2 separate regions of the Homo sapiens genome follow, and region 2 is linked to region 1. Evidence: fine-mapped expression QTL. A gene starts in region 1. The other region holds a variant in brackets. All regions are shown on one strand. Distances are from middle to middle.

Region 1 (8,323 bases):
ATCGAAGTTTTCGGGCAGCTGGAGTTTCTGAGAGTTGGTCACCATGAGATCCAGGACAGTCTCAGCTTTGCGCAGGAGGTCCGCATGGCTCTCGTCTTCCGTGCAGCCTGGGTGGGAACAGAGCCTCTCAAAGATGATGTGAAAGCCAGACCAGCAGGACGCACCGTGCAGGGAGCAGTTGTAGGCGGCTCCGGACTCCAGGAGGAAGCGCAGGAGAGGGAAGTGCAGTTTAAAGCTCTTCAGGCAGATGTGGGTGAGGGACTCGTGGGCTGGGCACTCGCTGGGGTCGGCCCCGTGTGCCAGCAGCAGCCGTGTGACTTGGAAGCAGAAGCGGTTGATCATCTGGGCCTCCTCTTTGTCCCCTCCCACGGTCTCACCAAGCAGGAAGATGATGCAGGTGAACACTGTGTCCCCATCTTTGGTGGTGGCCTTGACGTCTGCCCCTAGAAGAGCCATAGAACAAGAGATGCTGGGAGAAGGCCTTCAACCCTGGCAAAGCAACAGCACACATCGAAGGGGCGGGTGAGAGGACGAGGCCTAGGAGCGCGCCAGCCTCACCTCCTTCCAGTAAGAGACGAATGTTCTCAGTATTGTGGATCTGCACCCCGTCGCTGCTGGCCAGAGCATGGAGCAGAGCAGTTTTTCCTAGGGAGGGAGGGAGAGCAAGGAGGAGCAGGAGGCCAGGAAGCCCAGGTCAGGGCAACCCAGAGGAGGTGGCAGAAATCCAGACACTCAGAGGATCAGAAGATGAACTTTCAGAGACAACTCTCAGCTCAGGTGAGGGCTGAGGGTGACAGGCTTCTGGCCATTCCCTTTCCACCCAGAGAAGTGGGAGCGGAAAGGCCAGGAAAGGTAGGATTTTTCTGGACCCCAAGATGCTACCTGAGATGTTGGCTGGGCCTCTCCCAATGGGAAGCCATTGTTTCTTGGAAACTAAGTGCACACATGCCCTATTTCTTCCTATAGAAGGCCCTTGAGGGCCAGCACAGGGACAATGACTGCACTGCCTCTCTGAAGCCTCTGAGCTCAGCAAGTCAGCAGAATCCCTGTGTGCCCAGCCATGCTGTGCCACCAGCCAGGGCCAGCATCCAGTCTGCCCACCTAGCTGTTGTCCTGGGGCACCCTGGGTGTCCCCCACAAGGTGCCTGGGGGCCCAGCTGTCCTGCTTTCCTGCAGGAGGCACCCACCATGCTTGTCAGCGGCATTGACATCAGCTCCAAGGTCCAGGAGGCGCTGCAGGCAGGGCAGGCGCTCAGGCTCCTCGCTGGCCAGGTCCAAGGGGCTACTCTCGTGGATCTGAGCCAAGGAAGCACAGCCAGGTTGGCTTGGGAAGCTGCTCAGGCCCCTGCCCAACCCTGCTTCAAAGCAAGCTGGACCTGGCACTTACCCGGTCCCTCCGATTAACGTCGGCCCCGTGATGCACCAGCAGCTCCACCATGTCCGGCTGGTTCCGCAGGACGGCGATGTGCAAGGCCGTGTAGTAGGTGACTGGGTCTGAAGGTGCAGACACAGCTCATGTGGGTCCTATCTGTCCGCATTCTTATGGGGCCCCCGGACCCAGAGCCCAGCCCCAAACTCCCACCTAAAGTGTCCAGAAGCACAGGCCCAGCCTCCTGTCACCATCAAGGGTTAGGACAGAGCTGTCCTCACCAGATACTAGAGGGCCCTCGGGGTGTTCTAGTGGGCACGCTACTGAAGCTGTTGGGGGCTTTAGTTTCCTCTTCTGTAAGAAGGGACCATAAAACGGGGCGCACCCTCTCAGAATGGCTGGGAGGCCGCGCTACACAGCAGCTCTGGCGGCTCTGCTTTGTAGGCCTGGTGGTAACAGCCAGGTTCTCCAAGCTGGTCTCCAAGTCACTGGCTTCAGAACCGGCCCTCCCGTCTCAGCTCCTTGACCCTCCAGGAGCCCAGCAGACTCCAAGCCCGTCTTCGGATGGGGAAAGGAGACGTGCCTGGCTGTCTCAGGCCCCTATTAGGTCACAAGGCAGCCCTGCCTGTCTGCCGACTAACCCTGCCCTCCCTGGGCTGAAAAACACAGAGAAAGGAGCTCGGCTCCATCTCCATCCCTGGCACTCAGGAGCCAGGAGCCAGGGTGTCCTGTGGTGATTTATGCCTAATGCAGCCTGTTTTCCCCTCTCCCTACGGCATGAGAAAAAAAAAAACAAATTGGCTCAGAGTAAGTAGCAGAAAATTACCTTCCCTTAGCTCTGGGCACAGTGCCAGCAGCCGCATTTTTGCATTAATGGAAGTGGGGATTAATCTGGGAGCTGGGGAAAGTTTGCTAATCAATCACATGGTAGAAGCAGCAACACTCGCTCTTGGAACAGAGGTGGGAAGAGCCATGTGAAAACCCGCAGGGGGTGGGAGGCCACCCAATGGGAGTTTCCTTAGTTGCAGCCACCCAGGAAATAAAGGGGGGGAAGTCACTCCTCAGAGGATGGTAGAAGCCAAGGCTGGGGACATGGGCGCCCACCCAGCGTCGGGCCGCGTTTAAGCCACCTGCCCACCCCCGGGGCTCTCGCTGACCTTCAAAGTTGAGATTGGCCCCATGCCGCAAGAGAACGTCGGCCGCCCGCGTCAGCCCCAGCTCAGCCATCTTGAGCAGGGCGTTGCTCACGCCTTCCTGGTAAAAGGGAGAGTGGGCTTTCCTCTCCAGCAGCTCAGTGAGAACAAGGATTCGGCTCTCCTCGCTGGCGACATAACTGGGCCTGGGACAGGAGAGAGGCTGAGGGTAGGCACAGCTGTGGGACCGGGTGACCGCGCAGCCTGTGGGTTGGTGGGCTTTAGTCCTGCTATCATCATCAGCAAGCAGGGCCCTGGCTCTGTGGGTCACAGGGGCTTGGGGGAAGCTCTGAAGTAGAGAGAGGGCCACGCTGCATCTCTTAATACGGGAGCAGACTGGGATTTGCGGAGAATGGGCTGGGTCTGTCTGCGCTCTCCTCCCGCGTTGCCCAGAGTCCGGTCGCAGACTTAGGTACAAAGCCTCACACACCTGGGCTGCTGGGACTGAAGGGACCACCAGCCTGGAGGCCAAGAGCCCAAGCCCGACTTTGATGCTTCTTCCTCAGAAAGCCCTTCCATCCTCAAACCCGCAGGACCCCAGCCCCGGCAACACCTGCAGCCAGGACAGCAACACAGCCTCCTCCCTCCCCTCACATTGAGACCTTCAGCTGATATTGATGAAGAAAGCCTACGTTTCCACCAGAGTCCCTGGATGGCGAGACTCATCATTACCACGTGTTGGAAATACCAACTGACAACCCCCTCAACACCTGAGCCGAGCCCCTTCCTTCTGCTCTCCCCTCCCTTCCACCTCGCGTGCCGCCGTACAATTACTTGTCAGTCTCTCCTCTGGAGCACATGCGCCAAGAAGGCGGGGGTTTTGCTGAGCCACTGATGGACCCCAGGTGCCTAGTACCATGGGCAGTGAATGCAGATTCGCTCCCGACCCCTTTCCTGCAGGTCCACGACAGACCAGCTCTTGTCTATAAAAACGCAAACTCTGCTACAAAAGCCCACCTTCACACTGCTCTGGGGTAACATCTGAGGCCTCACGGATTCCACCCTGCTCCTCTGCCACGCCGGGGGGTGGCACAGGACAGGCAGGCGACAGGGTGGGGCTGAGGCGCAGGCCCTGCGACAACCCGCGGGCCTCCGCCCTCGGGCCCTCCCCGCCCTTCGTCTCCGCCATGCAAGGGGCAGGAGTGGGATCCGCGCGGGGCAGCGCGCACTCCGAGCCACGCAACCCCGGCTTCCGCCCGTCCCTTCCTCTGTCAAGGGGGACGCATCCACCCCGCCCGGCTTGTGGTGATAAAGTGGGACGCTGCGGGGTCGGAGCGGCCTCGGCCAGCTCACGGGAGGGGGTGAGTTACCGGTCCAGAGACTCCTGCCGCTCGGGGTCCTGGATCCCCAGGGAGCCCAGAATCGCATCCACCAGCGGCTGGTACTCGAAGATGATCCTCCGGAAGCCGTGCAGGAACGGCATCGCCGCGGGCCCCGCGCAGCAGGGCCGTCGCGCTTTCTGCCGAGGCCGAGATGCCCAGACGCCGACCGGAACGCTCCGGCGGCCGCGGACCCCACCTGCTCCGCCAGTCCAGCCCCTGCGCCCGGCCGGGTCCGCTCCTCAGTCCAAGCCGCGCCCCCGCCGGAAGTGACCCTCGTACTTCCTGCCCGCGCCGACTCAGGGTGGGCCATATGGCGACAGCGCCCCCTGCGGGCTCGGAGGACCTCGGCGCGTCCTGGGGCACGACCGCCAGGCCGACTCGGGCGATGTCCAGTGGGCGGCCCCAGCGGAGTGGGAGAGTGGAGGATCGAGCCAAGCCAGATCCGAGACTCAGGCGGGTCCGCCCCTTCCTGCCAGGGCCCGGCCCGGCTCGGCTTCGCCCTGCGATCCCGCCCGCGACCGCTGGGCGCCGTCCGAGTTCCGCCGGTCGTGCTCTCGGCCCTGCCGCTGCCCCACTGGCCCTGGGCGCCCCTGAGAGCTGTGGTCATCAGACACTGCCCCTTCCGGTTCGGGCTGGCCCTCGCCTTCCCTGAAGAGGGGCTGGGCCACCTCTGTCACCACCCGGCCCGCTGACTGGAATGATGAGGACCAGGGTACTCGCACGTCCCCTCCTCAGTTTCTTATTCTCTGTCCCGGGGAGCACCTGGCCAGGACGGCTGCTAGCCCTCTCCACCTCTGCCTTGATGGACTCAGTGAATCTTGTTTTTTGTTGTTGTTGTTTTTGTTTTTTTGGGGGACGTAGTCTCGCTCTGTTGCCCAGGCTGGAGTGCAATGGCACGATCTCGGCTCACTGCAACCTCCGCCTCCCGGGTTCAAGCGATTCTCCTGCCTCAGCCTCCCGAGTAGCTGGGATTACAGGCGCTGGCCACCACGCCCAGCTTATTCTTGTATTTTTAGTAGAGACAGGGTTTCACCATATTGGCCAGGCTGGTCTCGAACTCCTGACCTCGTGATCCTCCCACCTCGGCCTCCCAAAGTGCTGGGATTACAGGCATGAGCCACGGTGCCCAGCCCGAATCTTGTGTATTTTTTAGAGACAGGGTCTCACTCTGTCTCCCAGGCTGGAGTGTAGTGTAGTGATCATGACTCACTGCAGCTTTGAACCCCTGGGCTCAGGTGATCCTCCCGCCTCAGCCTCCCGAGAAGCTGGGAACACAGGAGTGTGCTACCGCCTGTCTCTGAACTTGGATTTCCTCATCTGTAAAATGGGTAGAATCCCCAGCACTTTGAGAGGCCGAGGCAGGTGGATCACCTGAGGTCAGAAGTTCGAAGCTGCAGACCGGCCTGGCCAATATGATGAAACCCTGTCTCTACTAAAAATACAAAAATTACCCGGGCGTGGTGGCAGGCGCCTGTAATCCCAGCTACTTGGGAGGCTGAGGCAGGAGAATTGCTTGAACCCGGGAGGCGGAGGTTGCAGTGAGTGGAGATCGCACCATCACACTCCAGCCTGGGCAATAAGAACGAAACTCTGTCTCAAAAAGAAAAAAAAAAAGTATAATCACACTCACCTGAGATGCTGGAGCCAGCGCACTGTAATTGTTGGTGGAAGTGGAATTCAGTGGGAAGGAGCCAAAACCCTCTGGTTCAGGAAGAAGGGGCGGAGTGGGCAGCCGGGTTTAAGCCCCTTTAGGGCAACACCAGCTTGGGCTTCCTAGAAGCAGCTCCAGGCCGCAGAGTCCACAGCTGCCAGCACGTTTCTGCCTTGGTTCTCGCTGTAGGAAAGAAATTTCTCCCTGGGTGAAATCGGGAAATTCTGCTCACATGGAAATGGACATTTCCAGCTTGCCTTGGAAAAACCACTTTTCTGGAGTCGAGGCACCTCCCCTTGGGCCATGCATTTGAGCCTCCTCTCCCACCTGGAGTCTGCGTGGGGGGGCCTTGATGCCTTCTTGCTTCTGGGAAGCTGATGATGAAGAGGGGTTTCCCGCCCCAGCAGTCCACATCACAGCGTTGGCCTCCTGGGCCTTGCTCTGCCAAGTTGGGCCCCTCTCCCTGGAACCTGCCAGACAGCGAGAGTTGCCCAGCCCAGGAAAAAAACATTTAAAGGCGCATTTCAAGACAATCCGATGGGTCTTAGAGTAAACATTTTTATATTTATTTATTTATTATTATTATTATTATTATTTTTCAGACGGAGTCTCACTCTGTTGCCTAAGCTGGAGTGCAGTGGCAGGATCTCGGCTCACTGCAACCTCCAACCCCTGGGTTCAAGCCTACCAGGTAGCTGGAATTACAGGCATGCGCTACCACGCCAGGCTAATTTTTGTATTTTTAGTAGAGACGGGGTTTCACCATGTTGGCCAGGCTATTCTCGAACTCCTGACCTCAGGTGATCCACCCGCCTCAGCCTCCCAAAGTACTGGGCTTACAGACGTGAGCCCACCACGCCCAGCCAGATGAAACATTTTTAAATGGGCAGAGTAAGGCCCTCTACCATGTGCAAAACAAACTGTACAAGAAAACCCAAAGCAACGAGCCTCAACCGGCAAGGTTGAGGGTGTGGCAGCAGCGGCTGGTAACTGCTGGCTCTGGTTGTTAAAGCTGTTGTCAGATCCAATGACAGGCTCTCGGAAAACCACCTCCGACGCCAGGCATTCAGAGTGCCTCAGTTTGCTTCCTCTTCCATTACCTAAAGGAGTAGGAAGGAGGGGTGGGGGTGGGCAGCTGGGTTCAAGACCCTTTAAGGCAACACTAGCTTGGGCGTCCCAGAAGCAACTGCAGACTACGAGGGCCCACGGCTCCCCACACATGTCTGCCTTGATTCTTGCTGAGGGAAAGAAGTATCTTCCTGAGGGAAATCGGGACATTTTGCTCCCAGGGAAATGGAGATTTTCCAACTTGCCTTGTAAAAATCAGAAGGGCCCAGATTCTTACCAGACAGCGATTTGCATCCAGATGGGGTGCTTGCCCTGGGTGCACCTGCCTGGGCATGACTCTGAGCGTTTGGAAGTGTCTGCCCCTGCTTGAAGGGTCCCCCTCAATGGATCGCGAGGCCCTGAACGGTACAGCCGCTCTCAGGCGACCCAGGTCTTCACAGCCCCTCTCTCGTTTGATCACACAACACATTTGATCACGTGACACCATGCCCGTGTTGAGTCAGGCCTCGGTCTCCTCACCTATGTGATGGCCTTTGGCCCTCAACCCTCAGGAGACGGAGGCCTGACTTACCCAAGGGCGCATGGTGAGTAACTGCGGGAGGTGCAGTCCCGTGGGGTCCCGGTGGAGCTGGGTGGGCTGACTTCGTCTGAGCCCTGCTTTTGCCCTAGGGCTGCTATAACAAGGTGCTGCAGACCTGATGGCTTAAAACAACAGAAATTCACTCCTTTACAGTTCTGGAGGCGGAAAGGTCAAATTCAAGGTGTGGGCAGGGCCACGCTCCCTCCAAAGACTCCAGAGAAGGTCCCTTTCTTGCCTCTCCCACTCCTGGTGACCACAGGGGTACCTCGGCTTGGGACAGCAGCACCCCAGTGTCCACCTTCCTCTGTCTCCACACAGCCTTCTTCCTGCTGTCTATGCCACTGTCCAAATCCCCCGCTCCCTTCTTTTTCTTTTTCTTTTTTGTTTTGTGTTTTGAGACAGAGTCTCGCACTGTCGCCAGGCTGGAGTGCAGTGGTGCGCGTGTGCCACCACCCTCAGCTAATTTTTTTTTGTATTTTTAGTAGAGACAGGGTTTCACCATGTTGGCCAGGATGGTCTCGATCTCTTGACCTTGTCATCCGCCCGCCTCTGTCTCCCAAAGTGCTGGGATTATAGGCGTGAGCCACCGTGCCCAGCCTTCCCCCTCCTTTCTAAATGGGCATGGGTCACTGGATTTATAGGGCGCACCCAAATCCATTATGGCCACATCTTAATTTGATTACATCTGCAAAACCCCTTTTTCTGAACGAGGTCACGTTCCAGGCACCAGGACTAGGACTGGAACATATCTTTTTGGGGAGCACACATAAACCCACTGTCACGAGTGACCCTAGGCATGGCCCTTCTGGTCTCTGGGCCTCAGTTTCCTCACCTATAACCTGAGGGCCCTCCCAGCTCTGACAGTCTTGGAGCCAATGACGAACTCCTTGACGTGGCTGGTGGGCTCCGCCGACAGAGAAGGAGTGAGGAGGGGGCCATTATAATAACAACAACACGAGCCCACTTGTATTTACGGAGACCCTTGTACATGCCAGGCACTAGATATGCTGAATGTTTGGTGCACTGATCTCCCTAAATCCTGTTAAGTAGGTGATATTATTACCCCATTTTACAAAGAAACGGGCTCAGAGAGGTTTGGGCGCTTGTCCCAGGCTGCACTGTGAGGTTGGGCCTCCAGCC
Region 2 (8,322 bases), 23 kb before region 1:
GCAAAACAGACACCATTACATCCAGGGTCTGGTGGCTCTTAGCTTCCTTGCTGGACCTGGCAGTGCCAACTGTCTCCAGGAGAGAGAAAGTTTCCGCTTCGCGGCTTTTCTGGGCACCTCCTCAGGCAGGCTTCGAGGTCTGCCTTCATGGATGTCAAAGGAAGATGCTTCCAATGGCATCTGGACCTCCTCCAGCCCCTGTAGGCTGTGGGGACTGCGGAGGGGAGCAAGTGTGGGCTCTGGAGGCTCCGGCTACGGGTCTCAAGGTGGGCAGATACAGCATATGGGAACCCCTTGGCAGCGAGCAGTCCAAGGTGCTGCCTGCGTTGGAACACCTCCACTGGACTCTGGACCCTCTACTTGGTCTTCGAAGGTCAACCTGACATCCTCCAAGGAGGCCAGTTCAGGCACATCCTCTGCAGGATCACTGATCTCTTGGCCTTTGCAAAGCCAGTCCCTCACTCTAGGGGCCCGGAGCTACAGCCTCTCTGCCCTCCTGGCTAGAACTTTCGGGAGTCTCGAGGCTCCCCATCCTGTCTGCTTACCTGAGCGTCTGCGCTCCCAGTAGCGGAGCGTTGTGTCCTGCAGGGTCTCGTCAGCGAATCGCACCCGGAAAGGGCAACGCTGCCTGCAGGGCCTAGAGCCTTCCCCCGAGGGGTTGTGGGTCAGCGCAGCCTTGAGCCTGGGGACCTGTGCACCGTGGGGCCTGCTGAGAGAGGGGAGAGGGGCCTGTGCTCGAAGCCCCCCACCGTACCCCAGCACACACGCACCAGCCCCAGACTCGCTGTGAGATCCTGGACAAGTGCCCTACACTGGTCTTGAAGAATGGATAACGCCAATCACAGCAGCCGGCCTTAACGGAGCACTTCCTACCTGCCAGGCAGGCTCAAGCACGCACATACACCAACCCACCAAATGCACACAGTCCCCATGAAACGCTGTTATCATTCTCATTTTATAGTTGAGGAAACAGAGGCACAGAGACTATTCCAAGGCGATGCAGCTGTCAGGCATGGAGCCAAGACCTGCATCCTGGTTCCAGAGCTGGCGCCCTCGCACGTAAAGCAATTTAGCAGAGAGAATAAGAATGCCAGCCCAGGAGTCATGCAGTCCTGGGTTTCATTCCTGACCCTTTTGAGCCTCAGTTTTCTTGTCTGTAAAATGGGAATCATTGTGCCCACCCTACAGGGTTGTGAAGAAAGGAAATGGGCCGTACAAGCATCCAGCCCAGGGTCTGCAGGACCCAGAGGAAACATCACTAACAGGGAGCTGTTTTTTGTTTTTGTTTTGTTTTTGAGACAGATTCTCGCTCTGTGGCTCAGGCTGGAGTGCAGTGGTGCCATCTCGGCTCATTGCAAGCTCCGCCTCCCGGGTTCACGCCATTCTCCTGCCTCAGCCTCCCGAGTAGCTGGGACTACAGGCGTGTGCCACCACGCCCGGCTAATTTTTGTATTTTTAGTAGAAACGGGGTTTCACCTTATTGGCCAGGGTGGTCCCGAACGCCTGACCTCAAGTGATCCACCCCCCTTCGCCTTCCTAAGTGCTGGGATCACAGGCATGAGCCACCGCCCGCCCGCCTGCCTGAGCTGTTCTTATTGTAACTGTCTATCTCAATCATGCCCCATCCCAGCCACGTGGCCTTTGGTAGACTGTCTCCAAGTCTCCATTCTGCAGGTTTTTTTCCCTTTAAATTATAGGCACAATAATACCATCCTCCTGGGTTTGGTGAGTATCAAATGATTTACATGAGGCATGTAGGACGTGGCCTGGCACAGGGTTTGGCCTTAATCAAGGGTATCTGTTATATGTATATTTCATAGATAACATTGTTCCATTTATTGTTATTAATTTCAGCCTCAACCCGGTGTGGTGGCTCACGCCTGTAATCCCAGCACTTTGGGAGGCAGGCAGATCAAAAGGTCAAGAGATCCAGACCATCCTGGCCAACATGGTGAAACCCCCGTCTCTACCAAAAATACAAAAAAATTAGCTGGGCACGGTGGCGTGCGCCTGTAGTTCCAGTTACTCGAGAGGTTGAGAATCACTTGAACCCAGGAGGTAGAGGTTGCAGTGAGCCGAGATCGTGCCACTGCACTCCAGCCTAGGGACGGAGTGAGACTTCGTCTCAAAAAAAAAGAAAAAAAAAATCAGCCTCAAGGGCAAGGCTGCGGGAAGGCCTGCTTGACCCACCTATAACTCTGTTATGGAGGAAGGTCATGGCTGACCGTTAGTATGCACATAGTTATATGTCTGCATCCATTCATCTGACCACATCTGTATGTCTGTGTAGATGCAGAGGGAATGCTTTTCATCAGCCTCCAAAGAGCCAAGCAGTTGGGAGGTGTCAGGACAGTGCCTGGCTACATGCCTTGGGACCTAGTCATCTAACAGTTGTCTGCTCAGGAACCCCTGCTCTCTGCTGGCTGCTGGGCCAGGCAAAGGCATAACCCAGCTCTGCCCACCTGCCTGAAATCTCAGCATCTTCACTCGAGGGCCACTGGAGCCTGTTCTGAGGCACCACAGTGTCCCCTGCAGGGCCTACCAGGGAATCTCACACACAGTAAGGTGCTCAAGTATTTGCTCTTGAATGTGAAAGTCTGTAACTGTGTTTGTCTCTGCTTTTGCTCACATTTGAGAGAATGAATTCCATACTTTTATTTATTTGTATCTTGTGAGAAGTCATGTGTATATTTGGCCTGATTGGTTGAACGTTCTGAGGTTGGTAAATGTGTTTCACTGTTTTTGTTTGTTTGTTTGTTTTTTGAGACAGGGTCTTGCTCTGTCACCCAGGCTGGAGTGCAGTGGCACGATCTTGGCTCACTGCAGCCTCAACCTCCCAGGCTCAAGCAATCCTCCCACCTCAGCCTCCCGAGTAGCTGGAACCACAGGCATGCACCACCACGCCCAGCTAATTTTTGTAATTTTTGTAGAGACAGGGTTTCACCATGTTACCAAGGCTGGTCTCAAACTCCTGGGCTCAAGCGATCCTCCTGCCTCAGCCTCCCAAAGCACTGGGATTATAGGCATGAGCCACCATGCTTGGCCATGTGTTCCATTTCTAGTTCCTACCCTGATCCATCAGGAGTATCTACCTAGAGTACTGTGTGAGGAATGGTTCTGAGGCTCAGTGGGGAAATATGATCCATTAGTTTTGTCTGCTGTGGGTATGAGATGAGGAAGAATGATATGTTTGTGATGTATTTACTCTCCCTGGTCTTTAAACTCATGGGCAGTGCCATTCACCCTTCACCCCTGCTTAAGCCTGGAGGAATTTTAACCTGGAGGAACTGTTTCTGTCTTCTTTTCCTCCTCTGTTAAAACTATGGTGTCTAGGCCCAGGTAGGTTCCAATTCCTAGGCTCTTCTCTTACCTCCATCCCTTAGTTTTCTCCCAATATTCAACATATAGTAAAACCTAATAAAAGTTAGAGTAAGAAATGGACAAATGATGGTGGGATGGGTAAAATGATGGAAGACTGGGTGGGTGGGTTGATGGGTGGATGGACTGATGGGTGAGTTAATGAAAGGGTCTGAATAGAACTGAACTATGAATGTATGGGTAGATGGACAGATGCGTGGCTGGATGATTATGTAGATGGGTATGTAGGTTTGTGGATGGCTTTATGACTAGATTAGCGATGGACAGTGTCCTGGGTTTACAAGTGGATGGAAGGATTTGTAGATGGTTGGTCATTGGATCAATGGATGGATGGATAGAAGTGTGGGAGTTTTATTTTTTATTTATTTTATTTTATTTTATTTCATTTTTATTTGAGATGGAGTCTCACTCTGTCACCCAGGCTGGAGTGCAATGGCACAATCTCAGCTCACTGCAAGCTCCGCCTCCCGGGTTCACACCATTCTCTCGCCTCAGCCTCCCGAGTAGCTGGGACTACAGGCGCCCGCCACCACGCCCGGCTAATTTTTTGTGTTTTTTTTTTTTTTTTTGTATATTTTTAGTAGAGACGGGGTTTCACCGTGTTATCCAGGGTGGTCTCAATCTCCTAACCTCGTGATCCGCCCACCTCAGCCTCCCAAAGTGCTGGGATTACAGGTGTGAGCCACCGTGCCCTGCCGAAGTGTGGGAGTTTTAGATGGATGACTGGCTAGCTGGTTGGCCAGGTAGATGAATGGATCCACAGGACACCTGATTCATGGGTGGGTGGGTGAGTGAATGTATGGATGGATGGAGTCATGGGTCCATGATAGATTAATGGGTGGACAGAAGGATGGATGGATAGATGGAGAGATTCATGAACGGGTTGTAGAAGACTTGGTTCATGGATGAGATGGATG[C/T]AAAGATGGATGGGTGAATGGGAAAATGAATATATGAATAGATTCATGGATGAATTATGTGTTGGTAGAAGACCTCATTAATGGATGGGTTGATTCATTGATGAACTGGCGAATGAATCTTGAATGGGTTGGTAGAAGATCTGATTCACGGACAGCCATATGTAAGGATGGATGAATGGGTAGATAGGTGGATAAATGAATACATTCATGGGCGAAAGAGGAAAGAAAGAAGGAAAGAAATGCCCCTTTCCTCCACTACCCTACCCTTATCCCGCCCATCACTCACTGGTTGGCCTTTCTGACAGTGGTGAATTGTGAGTGATCACCCTTCAGGGGCCCCAGAATAGGTGTCTGCTGGAGCGAAATCTTCGTAAGACTATCCTGGAGGTGCGATGACTGGCCCCTTAAAGACAAACAGGCCACATCTGGCATGAGTGGCCAGGCTGTCCCGCCCTGGAAACATCGATGGCAACCCCGTCCCCACCAAGAAGCGGACTGACGCTTACCACAGGTCTGGGAGGAATGAACAGTTGGGACACCGCGGAGACCCTGGGCAGTGCTCTAATACACCCCTTTGATGTTGCGGTGCTGGGGATGCTGGAGCCAGGAGGAAACAGTTGTGAGCCTTGGCTGGGGGACGGTCCTTTCTAGTCATGTGGCCTCGGGGTGATGGCAGACCAGCCCTCAAGGACGGGTTGCGAGGGCTCTGAGATACTCAGCTAACATTAGCATCCTTCTAGCCTGGGTGGTGGGGTGGTGGGTGCGGGGACACAAGGGACCACCCCCCACCGGAAATGACTCGGGCCCGCCCCCCGGGCCCCGCGGGGCCTCACTCAGTGGCTCCGGCTCCTCGGCGCACTTCTCCTGGAGCTGGTGCAGGAACTCACGGAACCTGCTGGGGAGGAGCTCTCCTAGGAAGGCGCCCAAGAAGTCGGGGTCCTCCCTGGCCACGCGCCTCCGGGGGCGCTCGCGCTCTCCAGGCCCTGGCTGCCTGGGCGCCGATTCCCGGGACGCGCCGGCCGACAGCAGGGGAGGCGGCAGCAGGGACCGCAGCAGCCCCCGCTTCCGCACGGCCCGCCGGGTCGCGGTGAGCAAGGCGGGCAGGCGCGGCGGGAGGCGTCCGACGCCCACCCCGGGCTTGGCGTCCCCTTCCGGCCACCACGCGGCGCCGCCCCCCGGGATCCTCCAGTCCCCGGAGCCCCGCGCGCCCAGAGCCGCTCGGAGCGCGGGCGGGGTCAGCTTGGGCAGCCGCGGGTCGCTGCTGCGTCGGAAGTCTCCGTCGCCAGGGAGCCCCTTGGGCGCCAGGTCCTGGGCCCCTGGGCGAAGTCGACGCCAGAACATGCTTGGCCCCGCACTCAGCTCACCGCACCCTCAGCGCGCGTGGGTGGGGGGCGCCGGCTGAGGTGGGGAGGGCATAGTCCAGCCCCAGGCCATAGTGCCCCGGGCGGGGCAGCGCGGTGCGGGGTGAACGCCACCGGCCCGGCGGACAGCGAGTGGCTTCAGGCGAGAGCTCCCAGAGCCTCTGTTTCCTCACCTGAAAAATGGTGACAGCAAGAGTAGCCAACTTTGGGGGTTGCTGTGACGTTTAAATGAGCAAGTACATGCCAGTCTTAGAACAGCAAGCTCGGTACAGTGCCAGGCACGCTGGCCAAGCTTACACATAGACTAGCTGCCATTCTTAGTATTTCAAAGTTATTATTATTTAGGATTTAGTCCCAGCTCCACCACTTATTAGCTTTGTAACCTTGGCCAAGCCAATTAACTTCCCTCTGCCTTCCCTGGGGGCTCTGGTCTGCAGAATGGGGATAATAGCAGCACCTGCCTCTCTGCAGCCGTGAAACGGCATCACCGCATCACCGCTGGTAGAGAGAGCACTTAGCCTGCCTTGCAGTGTTCAAAGCGTGGAACTGTTACCGTCATTAGCGCTCTACTGGGAATTAGGAAACCTGGAACCAGCTTGAGGGAAGAGAGACCTGACCAGCAGCCTCCCAGCCCTGGTGCTGCCTCAGAGACCCCTGGGTGGGGAGCCTGTTGAAAATACAGATGACTTACCCCCAGCCCCCATTCTGATTCAGTACGTCTCTGCTGGAGCCAAGACAGTTTGTTGTTCTTGTTGTTGTTGTTAAAGAGATGGGGTCTTGCTAAGACGGGGTCCTGCTGTCACCCAGGCTGGAGTGCAATGGCACCATCATAGCTCACTGCAGCCTCAAATTCTTGGGCTCAAGTGATCCTCCTGCCTCAGCCTCCTGAGTAGCTGGGACTACAGGCACACACCACCACAGTTGGCTAATTTTTGTATATTTTGTAGAAATGGGGTAGAATTTTTTTGTATTTATGTTGCACGGGCTGGTCTTGAACTCCTGGGCTCAAGTGATCCACTTGCCTTGGCCTCCCAAAGTGCTGGGATCACAGGCGTGAGTCCCCACTTCTGGCCAAGACACAGACTTTTAACAAACTCCCCCTTTGGGAGGCAGAGCCCCAGTCTTACTCCCAGCTCTGACACTGAGGGGTTTCTAAGCCTGCTTCCTCCCAACCACACCCCACTCCCAGATTGTTGTCAGCTCTGAGCTGACTCCTGGGCAGTGTCACACTCACCCTGGTGGGCTTCTGGGTGGGGCCCTAGAAGGTCCTGTGAGTTTAGAGCTCTCTACAGGCAGGCTGTAGAGCCCATCATCCCTGCCTGGTGCCTCTCCCAGCCCCTCCCGGCTGCCTCTGGGCCGCTTCAGGGTCATTGTGATCCGCCCCTCACCCCTGGGCATCTGAGTAGCAGTGGGCACTGAGGCCTGGGGACTAAGGGTGGGGCTATTGTGCCCTGGATGCCCTGGCCGCAGCCACCTGGGGCACTGGGACTCTGACCAGGGCAGCCAGGCCTACCCTTTCCAGATCTGGGAGGCTTAGGCTGGGTGGCTCTGGAAGTAGAACTTCCACCCCAAGACCAGGCAGTCAGAATACAATGGACCTAGAAATGAACAGACCCTGCGGGGCACGGTGTCTCACGCCTGTAATCCCAGCACTTTGGGAGGCCGAGGCGGGCGGATCACCTGAGGTCAGAAGTTCAATACCAGCCTGGCCAACATGGTGAAACCTCGTCTCTACAAAAAATACCAAAATTTGCCATGCATGGTGTTGTGCACCTATAATCCCAGCTACTTGGGAGGCTGAGACAGGAGAATCGCTTGACCCTGGGAGGCGGAGGTTGCAGTGAGCTGAGATCATGCCACTGCACTCCAGCCTGGGTGACAAAGCGAGACTCCATCTCAAAAATAATAATAATAATAATCCAAGGTCTGGGTGCTAGGTGTGCTTCTTGCTATTGAGATGTCATTTCTTTCAGGCAGTCTCAGCTGACAAAGAAATGTGTGTGTATACTATGAAACACACACATATCTATAAATATTTCTATAGGTAACCATCTGTACTTATATTAAGCTAAACATGAGCTCATGCTGACATCTCCAACTCTAATCCGTTACACAGATCATTTGAGACTCTGTCTCACAAAAAAAAAAGAGGCCAGGTTCCAGTGGCTCATACCTGTAATCCTAACACTTTGGGAGACCGAGGCAGGTGGATTGCCTGAGCTCAGGAGTTCGCAATCAGCCTGGGCCACATGGTGAAACCCCGTCTCTACTAAAATACAAAAAAATTAGCCGGGCGTGACAGCGTGTGCCTGTAGTCCCAGCTACTTGGGGGGCTGAGGTAGGAGAATTGCTTGAACCCGGGAGGCGGAGGTTGCAGTGAGCCGAGATCACGCCACTGCACTCCAGCCTGGGCAACAGAGTGAGACTCCATCTCCATAAAAAAAAAAAGAAAGAAAGAGCCGGGCACGGTGGCTCACGCCTGTAATCCCAGCACTTTGAGAGGACAAGGCGGGTGGATCATGAGGTCAGGAGATCGAGACCATCCTGGCTAACACGGTGAAACCCTGTCTCTACTAAAAATACAAAAAATTAGCTGGTTGTGGTGACGGGTACCTGTAATCCCAGCTACGCGGGAGGCTGAGGCAGGAGAATGGCGTGAACCCAGG

Which allele goes with the higher level. Positions count from the first base shown, and alleles are read on the strand shown. Sizes are in standard deviations (SD) of each study's normalised expression.
For the expression in monocytes of the gene that starts at base 4,137 in region 1, T is the high allele of the variant in region 2 and C is the other (moderate effect, 0.44 SD a copy in Fairfax 2014).

Evidence for each region. PIP is the estimated chance that this variant, and not a neighbour inherited with it, causes the effect.
Region 2: its variant is fine-mapped to the expression of ASB6 in monocytes (Fairfax 2014, PIP 0.95). The same link has a PIP of 0.9 or more in B cells.

Annotation. Positions count from the first base shown.
Region 1 is chr9:129,638,015-129,646,337 of GRCh38, forward strand. ASB6 (ankyrin repeat and SOCS box containing 6) reads right to left here and starts at 4,137. Exons shown (of 6, transcript NM_017873.4): 1 at 3,873-4,137; 2 at 2,527-2,708; 3 at 1,388-1,494; 4 at 1,188-1,296; 5 at 559-645; 6 at 1-443. The coding sequence starts at 3,985. RefSeq lists enhancers at 2,083-2,640, 2,641-3,197 and a silencer at 3,904-4,503.
Region 2 is chr9:129,614,939-129,623,260 of GRCh38, forward strand. It overlaps C9orf50 (chromosome 9 open reading frame 50), which reads right to left and starts at 6,163. Exons shown (of 7, transcript NM_199350.4): 1 at 5,129-6,163; 2 at 4,802-4,892; 3 at 4,582-4,698; 4 at 546-709. The coding sequence starts at 5,636. It also overlaps a transcript of NTMT1 not described here. RefSeq lists an enhancer at 5,625-6,275. The variant C/T (reference allele first, on the strand shown) is at 4,296.